Linked DNA regions of Homo sapiens. The protein of the gene in region 7 purifies or fractionates together with the protein of the main gene of each other region. This does not show direct contact. Each region holds a gene or a part of one and is shown on either strand. Other genes may lie near its edges. The genes, in order: ETFA, DPM1, SPTLC1, RCC1, COG5, LIPT1 and SLC25A28.

The links.
Region 1: the proteins of SLC25A28 (region 7) and ETFA purify together in Homo sapiens (affinity purification with mass spectrometry, with the first as the bait; one large-scale study listed by BioGRID). This does not show direct contact.
Region 2: the proteins of SLC25A28 (region 7) and DPM1 purify together in Homo sapiens (affinity purification with mass spectrometry, with the first as the bait; one large-scale study listed by BioGRID). This does not show direct contact.
Region 3: the proteins of SLC25A28 (region 7) and SPTLC1 purify together in Homo sapiens (affinity purification with mass spectrometry, with the first as the bait; one large-scale study listed by BioGRID). This does not show direct contact.
Region 4: the proteins of SLC25A28 (region 7) and RCC1 purify together in Homo sapiens (affinity purification with mass spectrometry, with the first as the bait; one large-scale study listed by BioGRID). This does not show direct contact.
Region 5: the proteins of SLC25A28 (region 7) and COG5 purify together in Homo sapiens (affinity purification with mass spectrometry, with the first as the bait; one large-scale study listed by BioGRID). This does not show direct contact.
Region 6: the proteins of SLC25A28 (region 7) and LIPT1 purify together in Homo sapiens (affinity purification with mass spectrometry, with the first as the bait; one large-scale study listed by BioGRID). This does not show direct contact.

Annotation. Positions count from the first base shown.
Region 1 is NC_000015.10:76,301,470-76,304,969, reverse strand, and holds part of ETFA (electron transfer flavoprotein subunit alpha, mitochondrial), read left to right. Parts: intron 1-3,500. UniProt on the Homo sapiens protein: Heterodimeric electron transfer flavoprotein that accepts electrons from several mitochondrial dehydrogenases, including acyl-CoA dehydrogenases, glutaryl-CoA and sarcosine dehydrogenase.
Region 2 is NC_000020.11:50,948,533-50,952,032, forward strand, and holds part of DPM1 (dolichol-phosphate mannosyltransferase subunit 1), read right to left. Parts: intron 131-3,500; coding exon 97-130; intron 1-96. UniProt on the Homo sapiens protein: Transfers mannose from GDP-mannose to dolichol monophosphate to form dolichol phosphate mannose (Dol-P-Man) which is the mannosyl donor in pathways leading to N-glycosylation, glycosyl phosphatidylinositol membrane anchoring, and O-mannosylation of proteins; catalytic subunit of the dolichol-phosphate mannose (DPM) synthase complex.
Region 3 is NC_000009.12:92,049,414-92,052,913, forward strand, and holds part of SPTLC1 (serine palmitoyltransferase 1), read right to left. Parts: intron 655-3,500; coding exon 547-654; intron 1-546. UniProt on the Homo sapiens protein: Component of the serine palmitoyltransferase multisubunit enzyme (SPT) that catalyzes the initial and rate-limiting step in sphingolipid biosynthesis by condensing L-serine and activated acyl-CoA (most commonly palmitoyl-CoA) to form long-chain bases.
Region 4 is NC_000001.11:28,523,043-28,526,542, reverse strand, and holds part of RCC1 (regulator of chromosome condensation), read right to left. Parts: intron 186-3,500; exon of another isoform or gene 1-185. UniProt on the Homo sapiens protein: Guanine-nucleotide releasing factor that promotes the exchange of Ran-bound GDP by GTP, and thereby plays an important role in RAN-mediated functions in nuclear import and mitosis.
Region 5 is NC_000007.14:107,235,421-107,238,920, reverse strand, and holds part of COG5 (conserved oligomeric Golgi complex subunit 5), read left to right. Parts: intron 1-2,233; coding exon 2,234-2,471; intron 2,472-3,500.
Region 6 is NC_000002.12:99,160,802-99,163,637, reverse strand, and holds the end of LIPT1 (lipoyl amidotransferase LIPT1, mitochondrial precursor), read right to left. Parts: intron 2,212-2,836; exon of another isoform or gene 2,117-2,211; coding exon of another isoform or gene 1,970-2,116; intron 1,682-1,969; 5' UTR 1,681-1,681; coding exon 559-1,680; 3' UTR 501-558; downstream 1-500. Other genes in the region: MITD1 (MIT domain-containing protein 1), read left to right, coding at 1,970-2,116. UniProt on the Homo sapiens protein: Lipoyl amidotransferase that catalyzes the transfer of lipoyl moieties from lipoyl-protein H of the glycine cleavage system (lipoyl-GCSH) to E2 subunits of the pyruvate dehydrogenase complex (PDCE2).
Region 7 is NC_000010.11:99,617,640-99,621,859, forward strand, and holds the start of SLC25A28 (mitoferrin-2), read right to left. Parts: upstream 2,801-4,220; 5' UTR 2,697-2,800; coding exon 2,406-2,696; intron 2,394-2,405; exon of another isoform or gene 2,109-2,393; coding exon of another isoform or gene 2,088-2,108; intron 1-2,087. UniProt on the Homo sapiens protein: Mitochondrial iron transporter that mediates iron uptake. Probably required for heme synthesis of hemoproteins and Fe-S cluster assembly in non-erythroid cells.

The DNA.
Region 1 (3,500 bases), on a different chromosome or scaffold from region 7:
CTGGGTTCACGCCATTCATCTGCCTCAGCCTCCCAAGTAGCTGGGACTACAGGTGCCCGCCACCACGCCCGGCTAATTTTTGTATTTTTAGTAGAGACGGGGTTTCACCATGTTAGCCAGGATGGTCTCGCTCTCCTGACCTTGTGATCTGCCCGCCTCGGCCTCCCAAAGTGCTGGGATTACAGGTGTGAGCCACCGCTCCTGGCCGAGGATTTTCTTTAGATAAAAACATCACTTCATTTTTTAGTTTTGTCTAAAATCATTTATCATTGCTGTATTTTTTCCCCCAATTTTTTTTTTTTTTTTTTGAAATAGAGTCTTACTCTCACCCAGGCTGGAGTGCAGTGGTGTGATCTTGACTCGCTGCAGCCTCAACCTTCTAGGCTTAAATGATCCTTCCATCTCAGCCTTCCAAGTAGCTGGGGCTACGGGAATGCGCCACCACATCTGACTAATTTTTTAATTTTTATCTTTCATAGAAACAGGGTCTTACTGTATTGTCCAGGCTGGTCTTAAACTCCTGGGCCAATTTTAGGTTTGCAGGGTATCTGTGCAGATTTATTATGAGTAAACCGTGTGTCCTGGGGGTTTGATGTACAGATTATTTTGCCGCCCAGGTAATGAACATAGCATCCAATAGGTAATTTTTTGATTCTCACCCTGCTCCCACCCTCCACCCTCAAATAGGCCCAGGTATCTATTGTTCCCTTCTTTGTATCCATAGGTATTTGATGTTTGGCTGCCACTTACAAGAGAGAACATTCCATGTTTGGTTTTTCTGTTCCTGCATTAATTCACTTAGGATAATGGCCTCCAGCACTGTCCATGTTGCTCTAAAGGACATGATCTCATTCTTTTTAATGGCTGTGTAGTATTCCATGGTGTATATATACCACATTTTCTTTACCCAGTCCATCCCTTGCATGGGCATCTAGGTTGATTCCATGTCTTTGCTACTGTGAATAGTGCTGCCATGAACATGCACATGCATGTATCTTTATGGTAGAATGGTTCATATTCCTTTGGGTATATTCCCAATTATGGTATTGCTGGGTCGAATGTTCTAAGTTCTTTGAGAAATCGCCACATTGCTTTCCGCAGTGGCTGAACTAATTTACATCCTCACCAGCAGTATATAAGCGTTCCTTTTCTCTGCAACCTTGCCAGCATCTGTTGTTTTTTGAGTTTTAAATAATAGCCATTCTGACTGGTGTGAGATGTCTCATTGTGGTTTTTATTTGCATTTCTCTAATGATTAGTTAATGTTGAGCATTTTTTTATATGCTTGTTGGCCACATATGAGAAGTGTCTGTTGATGTCCATTGCCCATTTTTTAATAGGGTTGTTTTTTGCTTGTTGATTTAAGTTCCTTATAGATTCTGGTTATTAGACGTTTGTCAGATGCATAGTTTGCAGATTTTTTTTTACCATTCTGTAGGTTGTCTGTTTACTTTGTTGATAGTTTATTTTGCTGTGCAGAAGCTCTTTAGTTTAATTAGGTCTCACTTGTAAGTTTTTATTTTTGTTGCAATTTCTTTTGGAGTGTTCGTCATGAAATCTTTGCCAGGGTCTATGTTCAAAATGCCATTTCCTATGTTTTCTTCTTGGGTTTTTATAGTTCGAGGTCTTACATTTAAATCATTTTTTGTTTGTTTGTTTTTTGAGATGGAGACTTGCTTTGTCACCCAGGCTGGAGTGCAAGGGTGCAATCTTGGCTCACTGCAACCTCCGCCTCCTGGGTTCAAGCAATTCTCCTGCCGCAGCCTTCGGAAGAGCTGGGATTACAGACTCCTGCCACCACGCCCAGCTAATTTTTGTATTTTTAGTAGAGACAACAGGGTTTCACCATGTTGGCCAGGCTGGTCTCGAACTCCTGACCTTAGGTGATCCACTCGCCTCGGCCTCTCAAAGTGCTGGGATTGCAGGTGTGAGCCACTGCACCTGGCAGAAGTTTTTTTGTTTTGTGTTGTTTTGTTTTTAAGTAGAGTTTGGCCTGTGTGGTAGTACACATCTGTAGTCCTAGCTACTCAGGAGGCTGAGGCAGGAGGATCCCTTGGGCCCAGGAATTGGACGCCAGCCTGGGCAACATAGAAAGACACTGTCTCTAAAAATAAAATTTTTTGAAAATAGACTTTATGTTTTAGAGCAGTTTTAGGTTCACAGCAAAATCCAATGGAAAGTACAGAGAGTCTTCCTGGTCCACACACCCACAACCTCCTCCACTGTCAACATACAGCACCAGAGTTGTCCATTTGTTACAATTAATGAATTTACATTGACATCAGCATTTCCCAGAGTCCATAGTTTACATTAGGATTCACTCTTTGTGTTGTACCTTCTATGGGTTTGGACAAATGGATAATGACAGGTATCTACCATTATTATATCATACAGAATAGTTTCACTGCCCCCGCCCCCACTCCCCCTGGAAAAAACAAAACAACAACAACAAAAAACCTCTATGCTTTGTTCTCCTAATCCCTGGCAGTCACTGATCTTTTTACTGTTTCTATAGTTTTGCGTTTAACAGAGTGTCATATAGTTGGGATTAGACAGCATGTAGCCTTTTCAGACTGTTTTTTTTTTCACTAAGTAATATGCATTCAAGGTTCCTCCATGTCATTCTCATTTCTTGTTACTGCTGAATAAGATTCCATTGTATGAATATTTATTCACTTACTGAAGGACATTTTGGTTGCTTCCAAGTTTTGGCAGTTATGAATAAACCTGCTGTAGACGTCTGGTTTTTGTGTGGACCTAAGTTTTCAACTCATTTGGGTACGTACAAAGGAGTGCAGTTGCTAGATTGTATGGTAAGATTATGTTTAGTTTTATAAGCAACTGCCAAACTGTCTTCCAAAGTGGCTGCACCAGTTTGCATTTTTACCAGCAATGAATGAGAGTTTCTGTTGTTCCACATCCTTACTAGCATTTGGTATTGTCAGTGTTTTGGTTTTTTACCATTCTAATAAGTGTGTAGTGGTATCTCGTTTTAATTTGCAATTTCCTAGTGAGCATCTTGATGTTGAGCATCTTTTCATATGCTTCTTGGCCATCTTCTTTGGTGAGGTACCTGTTCAGATCCTTTCCCCCTATTTAAATCAGATTGTTCATTTTTTATGTTGACTTTTAAGGGTTCTTTATTTTTTTTAGATAAGTCTTTTATCAGATATGTCTTTTGCACATATTTTGTCCCAGTCTATGGCTTGTGTTCTCATTCCTTTGATGAAGAGGTGTTTGTTTTGTTTTGTTTTGTTTTGTTTTGAGATGGAGTCTCTCTCGCCTAGGCTGGAGTGCAGTGGTGTGATCTCGGCTCACTGAAACATCCACCTCCAGGGTTCAAGTGATTCTTGTGCCTTAGCCTCCTGAGTAGCTGGGACTATGGCGTGTGCCACCATGCCCAGCTAATTTTCGTATTTTTAGGAGAAATGGGGTTTCACTCTACTGACCAGGCTGGTCTCGAACTCCTGACTTCAGGTGATCCATCGGCCTCGGCCTCC
Region 2 (3,500 bases), on a different chromosome or scaffold from region 7:
CTGTATTTTGGCCCTATTCCAAACTGGGAAAATACACACTGGATCATGTCACCAAGCAAGCAGCAGGTGTGAGGGGTTAGAGATTACACGACTTACCTAGTCCCAACTTTTTCTCTCGTGGTCTTAGAAGCTGTAGGAATAAGAAATAGCATTTTACACACAGAAACAGAAATCTTATCATGTTAAATTTTATCTTATTCAAAAGTGCATACTCACTTTAATAGAAATATAGTTGCACTTGTTAGAACTTAAAGCAAAGTATCCTTAATATTTTTTTGCCAAAAGAAAAAAAAAAGCATTTGGTAACAAACCAAATAGTTTAACGTAGCTAACATTTTTTTTTTTTGAGATGCAGTCTCGCTCTGTTGCCTAGGCTGGAGTACAGTGGCGTGATCTCCGCTCACTGCAACCTCTGCCTCCTGGGTTAAAGTGATTCTCCTGCCTCAGCCTCCAGAGTAGCTGGGATTACAGGCATGCACCACCATGCCCGGCTAATTTTCGTATTTTTAGTAGAGACAGGGTTCCACCGTGTTAGCCAGGATGGTCTCGATCTCCTGACCTCGTGATCCGCCCGCCTCGGCCTCCCAAAGCACTGGGATTACAGGCATGAGTCACCGCGCCCGTCCAGCAAAGCAACATTCTTTAACCCTGACCCTACAATCACAATTTTAAACTTTTTTTTCTGGTGTCACTCACTCTATTTTAAATATGTCTTTACATCTATATTTGATTTTCCTTTTAAATCTATTGATTCCTTCCTAGAAAAATGTAGGACTTACTTCATTATTTTGCACCTTCTTGGGAAATCTGATGTTTGTTCTCTCGATTCCCTTTGGGTTTTGAATACTAATATCACTCTTCCTCTATTAACTTATCTTGACCTTATGCTTGGATGACCTCATCTCCTCTACTGGTCCAAGGACATGTCATATTCCTAATTAAATTCTTTCTCTTTTCTTACTATTGGTCAATCACTTAGTCCTCCTAAATCTTTTTGCTTAATAGTTGGAGCCTGACTTTTACTTGTTTAGTTTTTCCTTTTGGCTGGACACTTTAAAAGTCAAATGCCAAAGTTCTCACTGTGCCCTACGTTTCTGAGGTATGGGGTTCAGGGAGACTCATTAGTGAGCATGTCTTGTCTATCTTGTCCCCTTCTACACTTGCCAGTATATAAGCAGGTTGCCTCTGACTGCAAATCTCTCAACAAAGCATTTTCAATTAAAGCAGATGATTTTTTTTTTTTTTCACTATATGCAATCTGCTGGAGGTTTCTATTTGCATGGAATGTCTTTTTCCATCCCTTCACTTTGAGTCTATGTGTATCCTTACAAGTCAAGTCTTTTGTGGGAAGCATATAGTTGGCTCTTTTTTAAAAAATCCATTCAGTCACTCCAGGTCTTTGGAGAATTTAATCCCTTTATATCCAAGGTAATTACCGACATGTAATGTAAGAACTTCCTACTGCCATTTTGTTAATTGCTTCTAGTTGTTTTGTAGATCTTTTGCTTCTTTCTCTTTCTCCTTTCCTTTATGATTATCTTCTGTACTATTATGCTTTGATTCCTTACTTTTTATCTTTTGTGAATCTACTTTAGGCTTTTCCTTTATGATTACCATGAGACTTACAAAACCCATCTTATAGTGATAACAGGCTATTTTAAGCTGATAACAATCTAACTCTAACTGCTAAAAAGAAATCCTCTACACTTTTACTCCACTATCCCCACATTTAAAAAATTTTAAGTCACAATTTGTATCTATAGCAAAGTACATCTTGCATAAAGATGGATAAAATACACTGCTGTCTGGTAAGAGCTTACAGGAAGGAAAGACATTCAAATAAGCATCTATGATAATTGCAAGTCACTGAACAAAATCGAGCAGGATATATCAGATCACAGCTAGATTTTATTTGATTTTGTGAATAATTTCTGACAAAATACTGATCCCCATCTGGTATCTGCCCTGAAAAAGCAAATTTTTTAAAGCTCATCTGAGATTTTCTACAACTCTGTTTTAGCTGGAAAATCTTTCTTTTAAAAAAAGATAACTTTGGCCAGATGCAGTGGCTCACACCTGTAATCCCAGCACTTTGGGAGGCTGAGGCGGGTGAATCATTTGAGGTCAGGAGTTAAGAGACCAGCTTGGCCAACGTGGTGAGACCTCATCTCTACTAAAAATACAAAAATTAGCCAGGTGTAGTGGCACGTGCCTGTAATCCCAGCTACTCAGGAGGCTGAGGTAGAAGAATCGCTTGAACCCGGGAAGTAGAGGTTGCATGAGCTGAGATCACACCACAGCACTCCAGCCTCAGTGACACAGTGAGACTCCGTCTCAAAAAACAAACAAACAAACAAACAAACAAACATAACTTTGTTACAGTTGCACACCCCCTTAACCCCAAGTGATACTTTCTAAGACCCCCAGGAGATGCCTGAAATCTCCAATAGTACCAAACCTTATATATACTTTTTCTTATACATACACACCTATCACAGTTTAATTTATAAATTAAGCACAGTAAGAGATTAACAATACCCAATAATAAAATAAAACAATTACAACAATATATTGTAATAAAAGTTATGTGAACTTGGTCTAACTCAAAAAATCTTCTTGTACTGTACTTACCTCTTTTCAGACTGCAGGTAACAAATCACGGAAAGCAAAACCATGGACAAGGAGACTATGATACTTATAATTTTCAGAATCTTCAAAGGTTTATATAAAATATTAGAGTATTATGGAGCCATTAACAGAAATGAGGTGAGCTGGTGACAAAAGATCGCCAAGACAGAATTAGAAGTAATGATGATACAGGAAGATGGCAGTTATGTTTTAAAAAACAAGACCACCACACTACCTAGTTCTGCAAATGCACATACACACATATATGCACAAAAAAACGCACCAAACTGTTGACCTGGGTCTCCCCTGTGCAAGGGAATGGGATGCCTATAGAAAATGTTCATCAGGTCGGGCGTGGTGGCTCACGCCTGTAATCCCAGCACTTTGCGGGGCTGAGGTGGGCAGATCACCTGAGGTTAGGAGTTCAAGAAGAGCCTGACCAACACGGTGAAGCCCAGTCTCTACTAAAAATACTAAAATTAGCCAGCATGGTGGTGCAGGTCTGTAATCCCAGCTACTCGGGAGGCTGGGGCAGGAGAACTGCTTGAACCCAGGAGGCAGAGTGTGCAGTGAGCTGAGATCTTGCCATTGCACTCCAGCCTGGGCGACAGAGCGAGACTCCAATCTCAAAAAAAAAATAAATAAATAAATAAATAAAATGTTCATCAAAGGCAACTTCGGTTTTACTGGTAACATTTATATTTTACAAGGATGTGCTTGTTTATTTCTTATGTAGGAAATCCAAACTATTTCTATTTGGTATGCTTTACTTTCAGACTCTTAATTCCACCTCTCCACCCTCCCCTGATCCTTTTTTGCCTCTTCATATCAATCTGATGGCCCCTTTCTATGTGAGGCAGGATAGCATTACA
Region 3 (3,500 bases), on a different chromosome or scaffold from region 7:
GAAACATGACACCTCATTCTGTTTGGGACTTTAAGAGGTTTTGCTGAATGCATGCCAGTGGTGTTTCTGACACACACACACATGCACACACACACGCACGCACGCGTAACTGTATCTACCTCCCACAAACACATTATATAGAATACAGATTTTTAAACACCAGAAACAGTATCCTTTCTCTGCCGTCATGAATACTTCTGAAAAGACCACTCAGGAAATTCCTAATGATTTTAAGAAATAATTGGAAGGCAAAATTTAACCATTTCTAGAGAAGAGACACTAAAAGTCTATTCGAATGAAACTTTGCAAACAGAGCACAAACCATGACTACCCACTCCGAGTTTATAAGTGCAGAAGGAAGATGGGGTTCCCTGGTCTGGCTGACTAGACTCATCCTGGGCTCACTGAGGTGACAGACACCAAAGTTTCGTGACCCTTCAAACTGATAAGGAACACTGTCTTGTGCCTATAAAAATATAGGCCTAGCAGAATGGAACTACATGTCTCCTATAAGAGGGGAAACGTTCTTAAAAAAGGGGAACTTACATTGATTCCATAGTGTTCAGTGACTCCTCGGCCATGCTCTCCTAGGACTCCAAATGAAAGGCTTTCCTCCAGGAAGATTCTTGCTTTGTATTTGTATTTTAACTTAACCTAAGTGTTATATAAACGTTAAAATACTAATGATTAGCACCATATAGAACATATTATGGAGAAAAAAATTAAGATTAAAAAGTATGTACAGCTGACTCTCAATACTTGTGAATTCTATATGTGCAAATTCATCTACTTATTAAAACTTATTTGCAACCTCCATATCAATACTTTTTTCCTGTCATCACGGATATGTGCATGTGCAGAGCAGTGAAGAATTTGAATTACCTGACACGTGTTTTCCCAGGTGAGGGTGAACAGGCGACTGTTTCAGCTCTGATCCTGTGAACAACTACCCTTTTCATGGCCTATTTACTGCCACTTTTTTGGACTTCTGTGCTTTTTGTTGGTGATTTTGCTATTTAGAGTCGCCCCCAAGTGTCATGCTAAAGTGCCGTCTATTACTCCTAGTGCTGTGATGTCCCTTATGGAGAAAATTTGTGTGTTAGAGAAGCTTTGTTCAGGCATGAGTGGTAGTGCAATGAATCAACAGACATTAAATAAGACACCTTTAAACAAAAATACACATAAAGCAAGTTTTGTGTCAACTGGTTGATGAAAATGTTGTAACCAGAGGCTCAGAGGAACCTAACCCTATTATTTGCCCTAGCAGCAATAGTTTAGTATTTCTTATTCCAGTGTTCATGGCAACTTTATAGAATATAAGTAGGGTGAATGATGAGAATCAATTGTCCTTTAGATGGTCTAAAATGATTCACTTAACAAAAGACAGCACAATACTGATTTTTTTTTTTTTTTTTTTGAGACAGAGTCTTGCTCTGCCACCCAGGCTAGAGTGCAGTGGTAGGATCATGGCTCACTGCAGCCTTGACCTCCTGGGCTCAAGTGATTCTCCTACCTCCGCCACCCAAAGTGTTGGGATTAAAGGTGTGAGCCACCATGCCCAGCTTCAGTGCTTATCTACACTTGAGCTGTTCCTACACTTCATCTTTAGTTTCGTATCTGTCCATTAGCACTGCTTCATTACTGTAGCCCTATAATATACGTCCTAGTATCTTCTGGTTCACTACCTCCCTCCCATTATTCTATCAACCATTGACACTCTTACAAAAACAAAAAGAAGAAAACAAATACATCTCTTCTATTGATACTTAAAATATATTTAGATTTCCTCAGAAATAGTGAAAACATTTAAAAACAACATATGGAACCCTTATTTTGAATCCTTATTCAATTAATAGACTCCTAGATTAAAATCTCAATGGCCGAATGCAATGGTGGTTCAACATGGAAAAATCAAATATGTATTACATACACATTAGAAGAATGTAGGGGGAAAAACCCCACATGATCATCCCAATAAATGCAGAAAAAAAATTTGACAAAATCCAACAACCTCTCATGATAAAACACTCAATAAATTAAAAATGGGAAGGAACTTCCTCAACCTGATAAAAGGTTATTATAAAAAACTCACAGCTACCATCATACTCAATGGTAGAAGACTGAAAGCTTTCCTTATAAGATCAGGAACAAGACAAAGATGCTCATTTTCGCCACCTGTAGTCAACACTGTAGTCGAGGTCCTAGCCAGGGCAATCAGGCAAGAAAGATAAAGGGCATCCAAATTGAAAAGAAACAAGTAAAATTATCTCTATTCACAGATGGTGTAATCTTATACATAGAATAAGATCCACAAAAGTATTATTTGAGCTAATAAATTCAGCAGAAGTTACATTATGCAAAAGCAATACACAAATATCTGTTGTATTTCTATAAATAGCAGTAAACAATCTAAAAAGGAAATTAAGGAAACAATTCCATTTATAGTAGAATAAAAAAATCAAATACTTAGTGATAAATTTAACCAAAGAGGTGCAGGACGTATATACTAAAAATCACAAAACATTGCTGAAGGAAATATCTAAATAGATGGAAAAATCCCAAGTTCATGGACTGGAAGACTTAATATCATTAAGATGGTAATACTTCCCAATGTGACTACATATTCAATGCAATCCCCACCAAAATCCCAACAATACTTTTTACAGAAATGGAAAAGCTAATCCTAAAATTCAAATGGAATTTCAAGAGACCCCAAATAGCTAAAATAATTTTGAAAAAGAACAAAGTTGAACTCACATGTCCTGATTTCAAAACTCACTACAAAGCTACAATAATTGACACAGTGTGGTACTGGCATAGGACAGATATATAGAAGAATGAAACAGAATAGAGTCTAGAAATAAACCCATACATCTATGGTCAATTAATTTCAACAAGGGTGCCAAGACCAGTCAATGGGGAAACATTAAACAAATGATGCAGGCAAAACTGGATAACCACTTGTGAAAGAATAAAATTGGACCTCTTCATCAACGCATACGCAAAAATGAACTCAAATGAACTACAGACCTAAATGTAAGACTGAAAACTATAAACTCTTAGGGGGAAACATAGCAATAAATCTTGATAATTTTGGATTAAACAAAGATTATTATTATTATTTTTTTTTTTTTGAGACAGAGTCTCGCTCTGTTGCCCAGGCTGGAGTGCACTGGCGTGATCTCGGCTCACTGCAACCTCCACATCCCAGGTTCAAGCAATTCTCCTGCCTCAGCCTCCCGAGTAGCTGGGATTACAGGCGTGTACCACCACACCCGGCTAATTTTTTTGTATTTTTAGTAGAGACGGGGTTTTACCATGTTGGCCAGGCTGGTCTCGAACTCCTGACCTCAAATGATTCACCTGCCTCGGCCTCCCAAAGTGCTGGGATTACAGGCGTGAGCCACCGTGCCCGGCCAGATTAAACAAAGATTTTAAAATAAAACACAAAAGCACAAGCAACAACAAAACACATAAACTGGACATCATCAAAATTTTTA
Region 4 (3,500 bases), on a different chromosome or scaffold from region 7:
ACGATGTGAACTTTGAAGTTGTTGCAGTCTCAGTGGATTCCCACTTTAGCCGTCTTGCCTGGATAAATACACCAAGAAAGAATGGTGCTTTGGGCCACATAAACATCGCACCCTTGTCAGATTTAACTAAGCGAATTTCTCGAGACTTCGGTGTGCTGTTAGAAGGTCCTGGTCTTGCACTAAGAGGTCTCTTCATAATTGACCCCAATGGAGTCATCAAGTACTTGTTTTTGTTTGTTTGTTTGTTTGTTTTTTTGAGACAGCATCTCACTCTCTGTTGCCCAGGCTCAAGTGCAGTGGCACAATCACGGCTCATTGCAGGTTTGACCTCTTGAGCTCAGGTGATCCTCCCACCTCAGCCTCTAGAATAGCTGGGACTACAAGTGCGCATCACAGTGTCCAGCTAATTTTTATATATTTTGTAGAGACAGGGTTTTGCCAAGTTGCCCAGGCTGGTCTAGAACTCCTGGGCTCAAGCGATCTACCCGCCTCAGCCTCCCAAAGTGCTGGGATTACAACAGCTGTGAGCCACCATGCCCGGCCGGAGCCACAGTCTTTAAGGTCATGAAAAACAATCAAGTTGTCTAAGCCTCTACCTAATGTTACGAAGGGAAGGAGAACTCCAAGAGCCCTTCTCGGTCTCAGCTCTGGGCCTAACCAGCAGCCCCCTCATTCCTTCCTTCTAGTGGTTCCCGAGAACCTCGCCTCTCTAGCTCTCCCCTCCATGGTATATGGACACAAGGCCAGGCACTTTTCTGCTGATTATCCTGGGGAAGGAGAACTAAATACTAAAGATGGGAAAGTAACCAAAGGTCTAGAATCCTGATAAGCCTTTGCAGGCTGAGCTTCTGCAGGTTGTCACTGGCCCAGTTCTGACTGATGAGGTGGCAGTTCTGAACTTCACCCAACTTTTATTCTCCCAGGGCTGAGAATCCTCCCACCTGTCTTTTGAGACCCCTTGTCCCACACTAAAAAGTGCACATTCTTTGGGATTAGAGGGAACTGGGTTCACCTTCCAGAGCTTGTGGCTGGCCAGTTGCCTTAACCTCTCTGAACTGTATCCTCATCTATAAAAGGGGATGCAATGACTACTTCTCAGGGCTGTCATCAAGACTGAATGAAATGGTTGTAAATCCACAAATATTTATAGTGCTTTACTACTAAGGGAGGAGACCACCCCTCATATTGTCTTATGCCCAATTTCTGCCTCCAAAGAAGTAAAAACTAAAAGGCAGAAATGAAATCCACAGGCAGACAGCCTGGCGCCGCGACCTGTGTCTGGTTAAAGATCGACCCCTGACCTAACCGGTTATGTTATCTATAGATTCCAGACATCGTATGGAAAAGCACTGTGAAAATCCCTGTCCTGTTCTGTTCCGTTCTGATAACCAGTGCATGCAGCCCCCAGTCACATATCCCCTGCTTGCTCAATCAATCACGACCTCTTCATGCAGACCCCCTTAGAGTTGTAAGCCCTTAAAAGGGACAGGAACTGCTCACTCGGGGAGCTCAGTTTTTGGAGACGTGAATCTTGCCAAAGCTCCCAGCTGAATAAAGCCCTTCCTTCTTTAACTGGGTGTCTGGGGGGTTTTGTCTGCGGCTTATCCTGCTACACTACTGCTTGGCTTTGGGTGAGGAGGTGTAGCAAGGATAAAGGAGACTAACCCTTTTTTACTCTCATAATTTGTTCATCCTTTGTATTTATTTTTGAGACAGGGTCCTGCCCAGACTTGAGTGCAGTGGCATGGTCATGGCTCACTGCAGCCTCAACCACCCGGGCTTGAGCCATCCTGGATAGCTGGGACTACAGGTGTGCACCACCACGCCCGGCTAATTTTTGTATATTTTGCAGAAACAACGTCTTGCCATGTTGCCCAGGCTGGTCCCGAACTCCTGGGCTCAAGCGATTCTCTAGCCTTGGACTCCCAAAGTGCTGGGATTATAGGTGTAAGCCACCATGCCTGGCCTTTTATTTTATTTTTTTAAGAGAGGGGGTCTCACTCTGTCACCTAGGCTGGAGTGCAGTGGTGCAATTAGCTTATTGCAGCCTCGAACTCATGGACTCAAGCGATCTTCCCACCTCAGCTTCCCAAGAGCCTGGGATCATGGGCACGTGCCACAGCACTTGGCTTGATTTGTTCATCCTAAAAAAGTCCAGAGGATTCTTGGCAGGCCTGCCCAAGATCCCCCTATGAGCTTGGCCAAACACAAAGACTCCCAGGCTTGGGCTTAAATGACCAGGTAGATGGTAGACTTCCATGTAGTGAGATAGAGAACACTGTTGAACAAACAGGAGAGAAGAGACGTGAAGCTCCATGTTGCTAGGTGTTTTCATTCAATCTGAAGTGCTTGGGAGCCATCCCAGAAAGGATGTCAGGCAGGCAAAGTTAGATGGGGTAGGGATGTGGGATATAAGAGGCATCTTTGTGGCCGGGCACGGTGGCTCACGCCTGTAATCCCAGCAGATTGGGAGGCCAAGGCGGGTGGATCACCTGAGGTCAGGAGTTCGAGACCAGCCTGACCAACGTGGAGGAACCCCATCTCTACTAAAAATACAAAATTAGCCAGGCGTGGTGACGCGTGCTGTAATCCCAGCTACTCGGGAGGCTGAGGCAGGAGAATCGCTTGAACCCAGGAAGTGGAGGTTGTGGTAAGCCGAGTTTGCACCATTGCACTCCAGCCTGGGCAACAAGAGTGAAACTCTGTCCCTCCACCAAAAAAAGAGGCACCCTTGTTTTAGATAGACAGCTGTATGCCAAGGCAAACATCTCATCAGTTCATCAGAATAATCTGTAGCAGTCTGCTGTGCCTGGGAGGGAGACTGTATTAGCATGAAAAGTACTCACAATAAGAAGTCAGGAGAAAAAGCAGGAAACAATTATGTCAGCACAGTTGGTGCTGATGGCTGGGCTGCCATGAGCACAGCCCGGAATGGAGTCAGACACATAAGGGCTATATGAAGTGTTGGTGTCATGGGGCATTAACCAAAAAATCTGTTATCATGGATGGAACAAACCCAGTCAACATCTCCTTAGTTGTGTTTGGCTAATATTCTGGAGCGTTTCACTACAAGCTGGCCACAATGATCCCACTCTACAGAGAAGAAAACTGAGGCTCAGAAAGGTGAAGTATCTCACTCAAGATTGGAAGAGAAGGCCAAGATCTGAACCAAGTTAGTCAGACTCCAGAGCTGGCGTCCTTGAGTGTTATTAGAAATTTCTTCTGGCCGGGCGCGGTGGCTCACGCCTGTAATCCCAGCACTTTGGGAGGCCGAGGCGGGCGGATCATGAGGTCAGGAGATCGAGACCACGGTGAAACCCCGTCTCTACTAAAAATACAAAAAATTAGACAGGCGTGGTGGCGGGCGCTTGTAGTCCTAGCTACTCGGGAGGCTGAGGCAGGAAAATGGCGTGAACCCGGGAGGCAGAGCTTGCAGTGAGTCGAGATCACGCCACTGCACTCCAGCCTGGGTGACAGAGCAAGACTCCGTCTCAAAAAAA
Region 5 (3,500 bases), on a different chromosome or scaffold from region 7:
TACTTACAAGCCATACATCTGATACGGGGATTAACGTCCAAAATATATAAGGAACTCAAATCAATAACAAGAAAACAACCTGATTTAAACATAGGCAAAGGACCTGAACAGACATTTCTCAAAAGAAGACATACAAATGGCCAGTAGATATGTGAAAAAACATTCAACATCACTAATCATCAGGGGAATGCAAATTAAAACCACAATGAGATTGCACCTCACACCTGTCAGAATTGACTTATCAAAAAGATGAAAGATACCGAGTGTGAAAGACGATGTACAGAAAAGGGAACCCTTGTATACTGTGGTTGGAATGTAAATTAGGCAGCCATTATGGAAAACTGTAAGGACGTTTCTCAAAAAACTAAAAACAGAACTACCACATGATCCAGCAGTCCCACTTCTGGATACATAACCTAAGAACTTGAAATCAGTATGTCAAAAGATATACGCACTTCCATGTTCATTGCAGCATTACTTACAATGGCCAAGTTATGGAATCAATCTAAATGTCCACCAACATTTAGATTGATAAATGGATAAAGAAAATGTGGTATACATACACAATGGAATACCATCCAGCCTTCAGAAAGACAGGAATTCTGTTAATTGCAACAAATAGATGAACCTACAGAACATTATGCTAAGTGAAGTAAGCCAGACACCAAAAGACAAATACCACATGACCTCACATATCTGTTGTCTAAAACAACCGAATACATAGAAACAGAGAGTAGAATGGCAGTTAGCAGCTATGGGGTGGAGGGAATAGAGAGATGTTGGTCAAAGGGTACAAAGTTGCAGTTAGGAGGAATAAATGATAAGTATTTAAGGTGATGAGTATGATTACCTTGATTCAGTCATTCCACACTGTATACATATAACATTACTGTGTATCCCCTTATTATATATTATTATAATTCATCAAAAATAAACATTAAAAAAATGAAATAGATTGGCACCATTTTCGGATAGGGAGGCTTCTTTTATTTGTTTGTTTTTGCAGCCTGGCCTTGTGGAGTGACAAACCTAGAGTAAAGCTAGGCTATGCAGTTGTCTGAATCTGGGAAAACCAAACCCCACATGAAGATGGCCGTCATTTACTAAGGCTCCCCTGTACCCAAGCGCCACTCCATCATGTGATGATACTGCAAACAAAAATGTTGCACCATACACCCTTCAGCAGCCTTGCTGTTGTTGGCACAGTCTTATACCTGTATGAAATCCCTTCCTGCTGGAACATAGGCCTACTTCTTCTATCTCTATCTGCTTCTGAAAGTGACGGACCTCTGGTTAGCATCCTATTTATAGTAACCACTGCTGTATTTGAAGATAATTAAGTTCAACTCATTCTCTTGCTCTAAGCATTTTAGTCATATCTGTTGTTCTTCTATAGACCATCACCAATTTCTCTACGTCATTCTCAGAATATGGAAACACTTAACTTGCTTTTTGAAAAAGATTCAGCATGATGTAGCCAGTGATCTCATTTATTAGAAAATATCAGGTGTTAGCTAGTTTTGGTATATCTCTTTCCTATAAATATTTCACATTCTTTTAATATATTCTTTAAAGAGCAATTATAAACATTTATAAATTATAAATAGTATTTCATGGAGCATCAGCTGGTATCATTTGTTGATCCAAATTAAAGCCTTTCCAAACCTCATCATCTAGAGGAAAAAACTGCATGCCATGTGTACTGTTACATAACCATTTCCACAGTCAGAATTCTGTTGGACTGATCTGATTAAATAGCACAAGAGCAGAGAGATCTTTGCCAAGAATTTGTATAGGGAAAGCAGCATTTTCTGTCATTGCAAAGCATAAAATGCTATTTCAGGATCCATTATTGATGCATTCAGTTAGCAGGCAAAACATGTGAGTGGATGGAGAATTGAGAGGCTGGGAGGGACCTTGAGAGGCCAGAGAGTAGCACTTGTATGATTCATCCAAGACAGATGGTTGTCTATTTCATTCTTAATAATCTTTAGGTAAATGGATTCTAAAATTCCTTCAGTAATCCTCCTGGCATCTAAACCACTTTTTGAAATGTAATTTTTAAACATTGTTTTCTGCTAACGCTTATCAAAAAGTAATTAATGTCTTTTATACCATTAAGGGAAAACATTACAAAGGATTGAAATAGCAGCATTGGTGGGGAGAGGGGTACAAAATCAAAGAGTGTGATTTAGTGCAGCGGTGCTGAAAAGGGCTGCTTTTTCTTTTACAGGTCATTATCCAGCTCAGGAAAACCTGATGTTCCTTGTTCTCTGTACATGAAGGAGCTACAAGGTTTCATTGCCAGAGTTATGAGTGACTATTTTAAACACTTTGAATGCTTGGATTTTGTCTTTGACAACACTGAGGCTATTGCCCAAAGAGCTGTTGAACTTTTTATCCGCCATGCCAGTCTCATAAGACCTCTTGGTGAAGGTGGGAAAATGCGACTTGCTGCTGATTTTGCACAGGTACATTGATGAATTACTACAAAAGAAAAAATGTTTTGGCCTCAATATCATCTATTAAATGAAAGAATGTGTTTTCATCGGTGTTTTTAAAGAGTTGCAGCACAAAGAAAAGTAAGCCCACTTAAGCATAAATAGTTAAAAAAAAAAAGGGAGAGTTTAAAGATACTTTTATACCAGATATATTTTTCTTTGTATTTAACAAAATAATTATCCCTCTCTTTGGTATTTCAAGGTTAAGGTGAAATAGCTCATTCCACAGGAAAGCAGCACTTCCCATTTTTATTTCATATGGGATTTTCTCACTATTTTACTGTCCCAATAGGTCAAACCTTGCTGACCAATAATGTAGGCAATGAAATCATATTTCAAACAGTGAAAAGAGACCGCTTGTTGCCATGTCACCATTCCGAGGCAGTGTTCCCATTCCTTTAAATGCACAGTGGGCCAGGTAGACATAGAGTCTGATTATTTGTTCTCTCTCTATCAGGTAGAGTACAGTTCTTCTCTGTGGCTAGCCTTGAAATCATTTCAGGCTATCTGATGTGTGTGAGAGATAGAATGACATTAAAATAGCAAAACATTATCAGCTCTTATAGAAAGCGTTTTCTTTGTCCTTTAGACAGATTTTTTAAAGCCTTTCAGTAGGCAATGAAGAAAAACCCCAAACATGCTTTCATTAAAAGATTCAGAAACAAAGATGATTGTTATTTTTGTATAGCATACCAAGGGTAAAATCTTTTTCTTTTTGAGACAGAGTCTTGCTCTGTCGCCCAGGTTGGAGTGCAGTGGCACAATCTCAGCTCACTGCAACCTCCACCTCCTGGGTTCAAGTGATTCCTCTGCCTCAGCTTCCCGAGTAGCTGGAACTACAGGCACGCGCCACCACGCCTGGATAATTTTTGTATTTTTAGTACAGACAGGGTTTAACCGTATTGGCCAAGCTGGTCTCAAACTCCTGACCTTGTGATCCACCCGCCTTGGCCTCCCAAAGTGTTGGGATTACAGGCGTGAGCCACCACACCTGGCTGG
Region 6 (2,836 bases), on a different chromosome or scaffold from region 7:
TCAATGAACAGACAGGGCATGGTGGCTCACACCTGTAATCCCAGCACTTTGGGAGGCTGAGGTCGGCGGATCACTTGAGGCCAAGAGTTTGAGACCAGCCTGGCCAACACAGTGAAACCCTGTCTCTATTAAAAATAGAAAAAATTAGCTGGGCATGGTGACAAAACCCTGTAGTCCCACTACTCGGGAGGCTGAGGCATGAGGATCACTTGAACTCAGGAGGTAAAGGTTGCAGTGGGCCAAGATCGCACCACTGCACTCCAGCCTGGGTGAGAGTGAGTCTCTGTCTCAAAATAAATAAATGAAATAAATAAAATAAAATAAATGAAGGAAGAAAGAGAAGAAAGAGGATCCTAGAGGTCAGAAGAAATACACAGATAGGGATAGGTGATAAAGAATTTCAGATGGGGAGAAGTTACTGAAAGAGACTAGGTTGTTGTGTTTTGTTTTTTTTTTTTGACGTTACTAAAAGAGACTAGGTTTTTTTTTGACATACAATGTGCAAGTATGAGACATTTTATTTTCTAATTGAAACTGTATTAAGACATTTACTTGGAATCACATTATTCCCTTAATTTTTTCACAGAGAATATTCCATTTACTGTTTAGTTTGTGGTCTTGTGGACATGTTCTAAGTAATATATTTGTTAGCATGGTAGTTTCAGTTGGGCAAAACTTACTGCCAATAAGACTTGAATTTAATTTGTCACGTATTTCCAATGGCAACCAATGATCAGGTGCTTCAATATTACAAATTTCAATTCTTCCATTCTTTATGTCTATGAATACTTTAATTTCCAAGTGTGACTGTTCATATAACACATGAAAGGAAGTATTTATACTAAACTTTGGAGTTTTGCCATATATCCACTCCCAAGTTTGCAGTTCTTTGGCTTTGCTATTTATTCCAGGAAACAGTGTCTCATCCGTTGGGTTTATTAGGTGAATGTGATTATCAATTTGATGATAAGCAGCATACTCTGTAGCAACAGCATTCATTAGTACTTCACAGGTCAGAGTGGGATCCTTTTCCAAAAGATTTTTCACTAAGGAAGGTATGCTAGCAGTGGCATTGCTCCTGATCCCTTGGTAAGGGCTCTTTAGCAAAGAAGACAAGAACGTCCCATCAGTACTACATAATAAAGTGCAATGGTGATAGGCAGTAGTCCGGCCGATCTTAGAAGCTGTTCCTGAGATTTTAAACTGTCCATCAAGTAAAAGGTCAAATCTTTTGGTAGCCTGCACATCCAGCTGGGGTTGGACAGCATTCAGAGCTCTCACAATTAATTTCAGATTTTCCATTCTATCATACTTTTTTTTGGTTGTAAAGAAAGTCAAATTGATATTACCCATATCATGGTAGACTGTTCCTCCTCCACTTCTTCTCCGAGCCAGTTTTATACCTTCTTCTCTCATTAGATTCAGGTTACATTCCTGCCAAGGATTTTGATGCCTACCAATTACAACAGAGGGAGAATTCTGCCAAAAGAATAGAATTGGTTTGCCTTCTAGATTCATATGGTCATGGATCCAGTCTTCCACAGCCAGATTTTGATAGACATCATTGGAAATTGACTGTAAAATGAGCCCATTTTTTACTGTTTTTTTAAAGCCAGCTGCTGGGACCTGGCAGTTACAAAGTAACTGGAAGCAATTCTTCATTGAAAATGGGATCAGCATGCTTTTAAAAATGGAAGACAAACAAATTAATTCATCGAGAAAAGGAACATTAAATTCTATTTTCTAACTATCAATTATCGGTTATTTAATCCAAACTTAAAGTATCCAGTGCAGTTGCTTTTGGCTTTTAGCTTTACAATTAGTCTTTAGCAATGCTATAACCAAGTATTCAAAAGAAATAAATGAAGACAAATTTCAAATAATTTCAGTTGAAATAATTTCACAGTTTTCAAACAATAAGTCTGCTGCAAATACATTATGTAATATATCTTTTTTTTTTCTCTTACAGACAGGATTTCACCATGTTGCCCAGGCTGGTCTCAAACTCCTGGGCTCAAGCAGTCCTCCCACCTTGGCCTCCCAAAGTGCTGGGATTACAGGCATGAGCCACTGCACTCAGCCACATTACCTATATCTTAAAGCCAAATTATGTTGAATTCACAAGTAACAAATGTTCATCGAGAAAAATGAGAAAATACAGACAAGCAAGAAGAAAAAAATAAAAGCATTGATAGTCCTAATCACAATTAACATTTTGGTGTAAACCCATTTTATTTCTAAGCATGTATACGCACACACATTTCCCTCCCCATACTATTATTTCATTCGACATTCAATCTATATATATATATATATATATATATATATATATATATATATATATATTTTTTTTTTTTTTTTTTTTTTTTTTTTTTTTTTTTTTTTTGAGACGGAGTCTCGCCCTGTCACCCAGGCTGGAATGCTGTGGCGTGATCTTGGCTCACCGCAACCTCCGCCTCCCAGGTTCAGGCGATTCTCCTACCTCACTGGGATAACAGACGCCTGCCACCACGTGTGGCTAAATTTTGTATTTTTAGTAGGCATGGGGTTTCACCATGTTGGCCATGCTGGTCTTGGAACTCCTGACCTCAGGTGATCTGCCCGCCTCAGCCTCCCAAAGTGCTGGGATTACAGGCATGAGCCACCGCGTTGGCCCATTAAATCTATTTTGCATCAGCTTTAATGACTGTTTAATATTCCATTGTTAACAAGTTTACTCAGTCTCTTAGTCTGTAATTTTAGGTGGCTTCTAGTTTTTCTGGTTATCAACGATGTGTTCATGAACATTTCCGTGGAAAGCTTTCATTATGTCTTTATAACACTTTAAAAATAATTT
Region 7 (4,220 bases):
AAATCATACTGGCCTCACCTAGTTCTTCCCTCTAAGTCATTTAAATCCCAGCATTAAGTGCAAGTGAAAATGAGCCTTCTAAAATAAGCTTTCGTATTGTTGACAACTCCTGAGCATTTTTTTCTCAAATCATTATTTCCTTAATAGAGGGCTTTCAGGCATAACTGCTATGTTGTATGACTAATTTTTAAAAAACAAAAATTCCAAAGTTTATGTAAATGAGTAAGAACTGTTCTTCAAAATAGTTACCTTGGAAGGCTACAATTGACTTATTCCAGCAAAGCTGTGGTTATGCAAAACCTTTCTGGAACTTCTCTTTCAGAGGTGTTTCCTCAACGGGTTTATAGGCCTCAGAAGTAAAGCAGTCTCCTTGCTTTCCAGTCCCACCTTATTTTGATGCCAAGCAGTATTACCCATTTTGACCTCCCACTTTATTCACCATATTTGATTCTGAATAGTCTTTGTTCTTGCAAAATCAATTCCATCTTGTCACAGGGCAAAGATTTGCCTCCCTTAAGGACATGCACCCAAATATTCTAGAAGCATTTTTAACAGGGATTTATAAAATGTTTATAGCAACAATAGCACTATGTAAATATATGGAGTAAGGAGATAACCTCCCGTTCTGTTATAATGGAACAGTGGTTAAATTGATAAGTTACAGTAATATTTCTAAGACAAATTATTACACTGTATTTTTCAAGCCATTACATAATTTTCACTGTTTTCATTGATCTGTTTTCCATTCAATACTCATCCAGAAAAACAGCATCCTAAACCCTGCACTCTACTCACAGTCTAAGTCTAGGGAGGTTACTCTGCAGCTAGATTATATTAACTTTTGGATATACGGCATTATTAACTCACAAGTCATTCAACCTAGAGTCTATACATATAATGTGTGCATCTTTTTTATTTATACTTGTTTTACATTTCAATGTTGTTACTTCTCTCTCATGGATTTTACAGTTTATTTCTATTTCTCCCAATTGACAAGGACATTTAACATTCTAATGTCCATTTTAGTCAAGTGCATTTACCCCGTTTTCAATGGATATGGCCCTTGTTAGGAGTTACCTTGTGTTAAAATACTCCTGCCAGTTTGCTGTCATTCACAAAGCTTAATGAGCGCTCCCCCCATTTCCTTATCCACATTCTAATGAAAAACATGAAACAGTACTGGAACCAAAGGGAAGTAAAAGGGATCTACTTTGCCTTTCCCAAGTTGATTCTCTCCTCCTTTTGAATACATAACACTTTCCTGATTTGAAGAGAAAACATACATCAAAAAGCTGCCAGGTCACTGTTTGACTATTACCCTTCACATGTAAAGGAGGCATCGGTCTTTGTCATATCAACAGTCCCCTCTAGTTTACCTCTCCCTCAATTCAGTCCTCACCTTTAATGGCTGGCACCTTTACTAATGTACAAGAATAAGAACTGTAAAGAACAATAATCTGTTTCTTTCTTCACCCAGCTTTCTTCAGAAGGACCTGACTTCAGTACACATAAATCATCCTGCTTGGTTGTGAATGCAATTAGTTTTACTTTCACAAGAATCGTGTCCTCTTGTTGATCTCTTTCCATTTTCTTCATACTTACATCTACTTTCTAATACCGTCACACTTCCTTTCTAGGCAACTTCTCCCTTTTTGCCAACTTCAGGTGGCCAAAGAAATATGCTATCAGTTTCATCTCTCTTGTTTGGAGGCTGATGTGCTCCCTGAACATACAGTCCTAATCCCAGCTCAATTTTCATGTTCAGGAAATAGGTGGGGTATCATGCTTGCTTCACAGAGAAACTGAAACCTATTCCTGAATACGATCTTTCCCACATTACTTCCAGTCTGGAATTCTGCATTCTCACTGCACAATGATTTCCAATCACTCATGTGTTAAGATTTAACATGTAAGTCCTTTATCTAGCTGAGAGATCCCAGATTCGGGTTCCTGCCCCGTCAGTAAGGGAAGATACAGCAAGGAGTTTGTAAAAGCACTAGCCCAGAAAACATCTCAAGCCGTTAGATCCATTTCAGGGTCTGGTTCACGCCAGTTGGCTTCACCTTAATCGAGTTAGTAGCACTTACCTGAGCTTCGGGATACCCCATCCCACCCTATTCCTGTTTAGTCCCAGGTGGGGTCCAGGGCTTTGGCTGACAGATTTTCGATCCTGAGTCCCGATTCAGATTTCACTGACGGTTAGAAATAGGTCCTGGTTCCTGACTGGGATCAACTCCCAGCTGGGACCTTGCTTGAATGGAGTGTCGGTTCGAATCATGTGGTAGTGGCAGGAGCCAGGAAGGAACCCATGTCGGCTCCGGCTCTCAGCCGGGATCCTGGCTCCGGACAAGACCCAGGGGTCGGGTCAGCCCCAGGTCGGGTTCGAAGCCGGGTGCAGGTCTCACCTTGACGCAGTCGATGGGGTACATCACGCAGTGCTCCAGGATCCCTGCCACGGCGCCTGCCACCATGTGCGTGGTGACAGTGGCTCCAGCCGGCAGCGCCTCGTAGTCCGGGCCGGAGTCCGGATCTTGTCGTACCGGGGGCCTGCAGGCCCCGGCCTCCCCGCCGCCGGCCCCCCGGCCCACGCCCCGCTGCAGCCACCCGTCCAGCAGCGCCGACTCCCCGGGGCTCCGCCCGGGCCCTGCCGCCGGCCCCCCCGCCACACCGCCAGCACCCCGCCCCTCCAACTCCATCCACCCGGGCCAGCTGCGGCGCCCACCCCCGCCGCCGCTGCCACCACTGCCGCCGCCGCCCCCCGGCCCCGTAGTGTCCGCCTCAGGCGCGGCCCAGAGAGCCCGGGGCCTCCGGCTCCCGCTTGGCCCCGCGGACACGCCCCCCAAGCAACCATTGGTGGAGACGCCAAGTTAGACCCACCCCTTTCCTTACGTACGAAAAATCAGCCGGTAGTATTAGCGAAGTCGCCTGTCATTCCTCCGCCCTGAGGCGTTGCTAGCGCCTACATCCCACCTTTTCCCCTTTGATCTTAGAAGCTTCTTGTTTATTGGTCACTGATTGGCCGACATGTGCGATCAACCCGCCTCTGACTTTTAGAAGGGCGGGAGAAACTTAAGGCTGAACTTTGATAGGCTCAACCACTCTTGATACTTTGACCGCGGCCATTGGCCCGCACCACGTCGGTCCCCGATTGGCTACAGAAAGAGCGACGCGCCCAGGGACTCTAGGGGCCGACTTCGGGCCCCTCACTAGCGCCTGCAGAGCTGCGGTCCCTGTGCGCGGGATCGCGTCGGGGGCGGGGCGGCGACAGGCCTTCAACGTCAAACTGCTGACGGGCGCCGTTACGACCCGCGCTCCCGTGCGCTCCTCAAATTCTGAGACGCGTGGCTGGAGAGCGGGCGGCCCTGGCCCCGGAGAGCCGTGTTCCCGCGGGATCTCGTCGCGGGCGTGAGGCGGGGCCGGCCTGGGCCGGTCATCCCTGGCTGGCGCGACCCGCAGCCTGTCCGGGAAGCCGTTGCGACATGCGGGCTGGGAACCGCCTCACCTCCAGGGGGGACCGCGGCGGCCCGCTAGACTCTGGTCGGGTCTGGAGTATTGGGCCCTCTGGCCGGACTCGGTGCTCCTCAGGCCCCAGCGCCCGGCACTGAGCCTCGCATCCACATTCGCAGAGTAAACCCAACAAGTGTTGAATGAATGAGGTTCCCCGGGCCCCGGCTGTCACTGGGCTCTGCGCCAGGCCAAGAGCCGAAGGCGGGGGAGGAAGATGTCGAAATGGGCGGGATGATTCACAGATGACGGCCGGTGGCGAGGCGGGGCTGGAGGCCGCATCCCAAAGGCAGCAGGGAAGTGCGGCGGCTGTGGGGAAGCTCGGACGCACGGCCTGGCCGAGTCTGAAGCATCAGTATTTTGTCCCTGAGCCGGCGCGCTGATGGGTCCCCCGCCTGGCGATGAGGGCTTCTCCCTCCCTCGGGTCAGCCCGGGTCCTGAGAGGCAAGGCCAGCGATTCCCGGCCTTAGGACCTCCTGCTCTAGGGAGCACGGGCGTCTTCTTCCATTTGCCTTCCCCGAGCGTGTTGGCACAAGCTGCCCGCGGTTTCCAGCTCTGTCTTCTCTGTTTTACCCAGATGATGCAACTGTGGACTTCTCCATCTGTTCATAGGTTTTCCTTGGATAGGAAAGATGTTTTCCTTTTTTCTTTCTAAAGTTTAGCTCTTCTCTGGGCTTCCTTTTTAAAAACTTTTTCTACTCTCTTCAGCAGTTGTT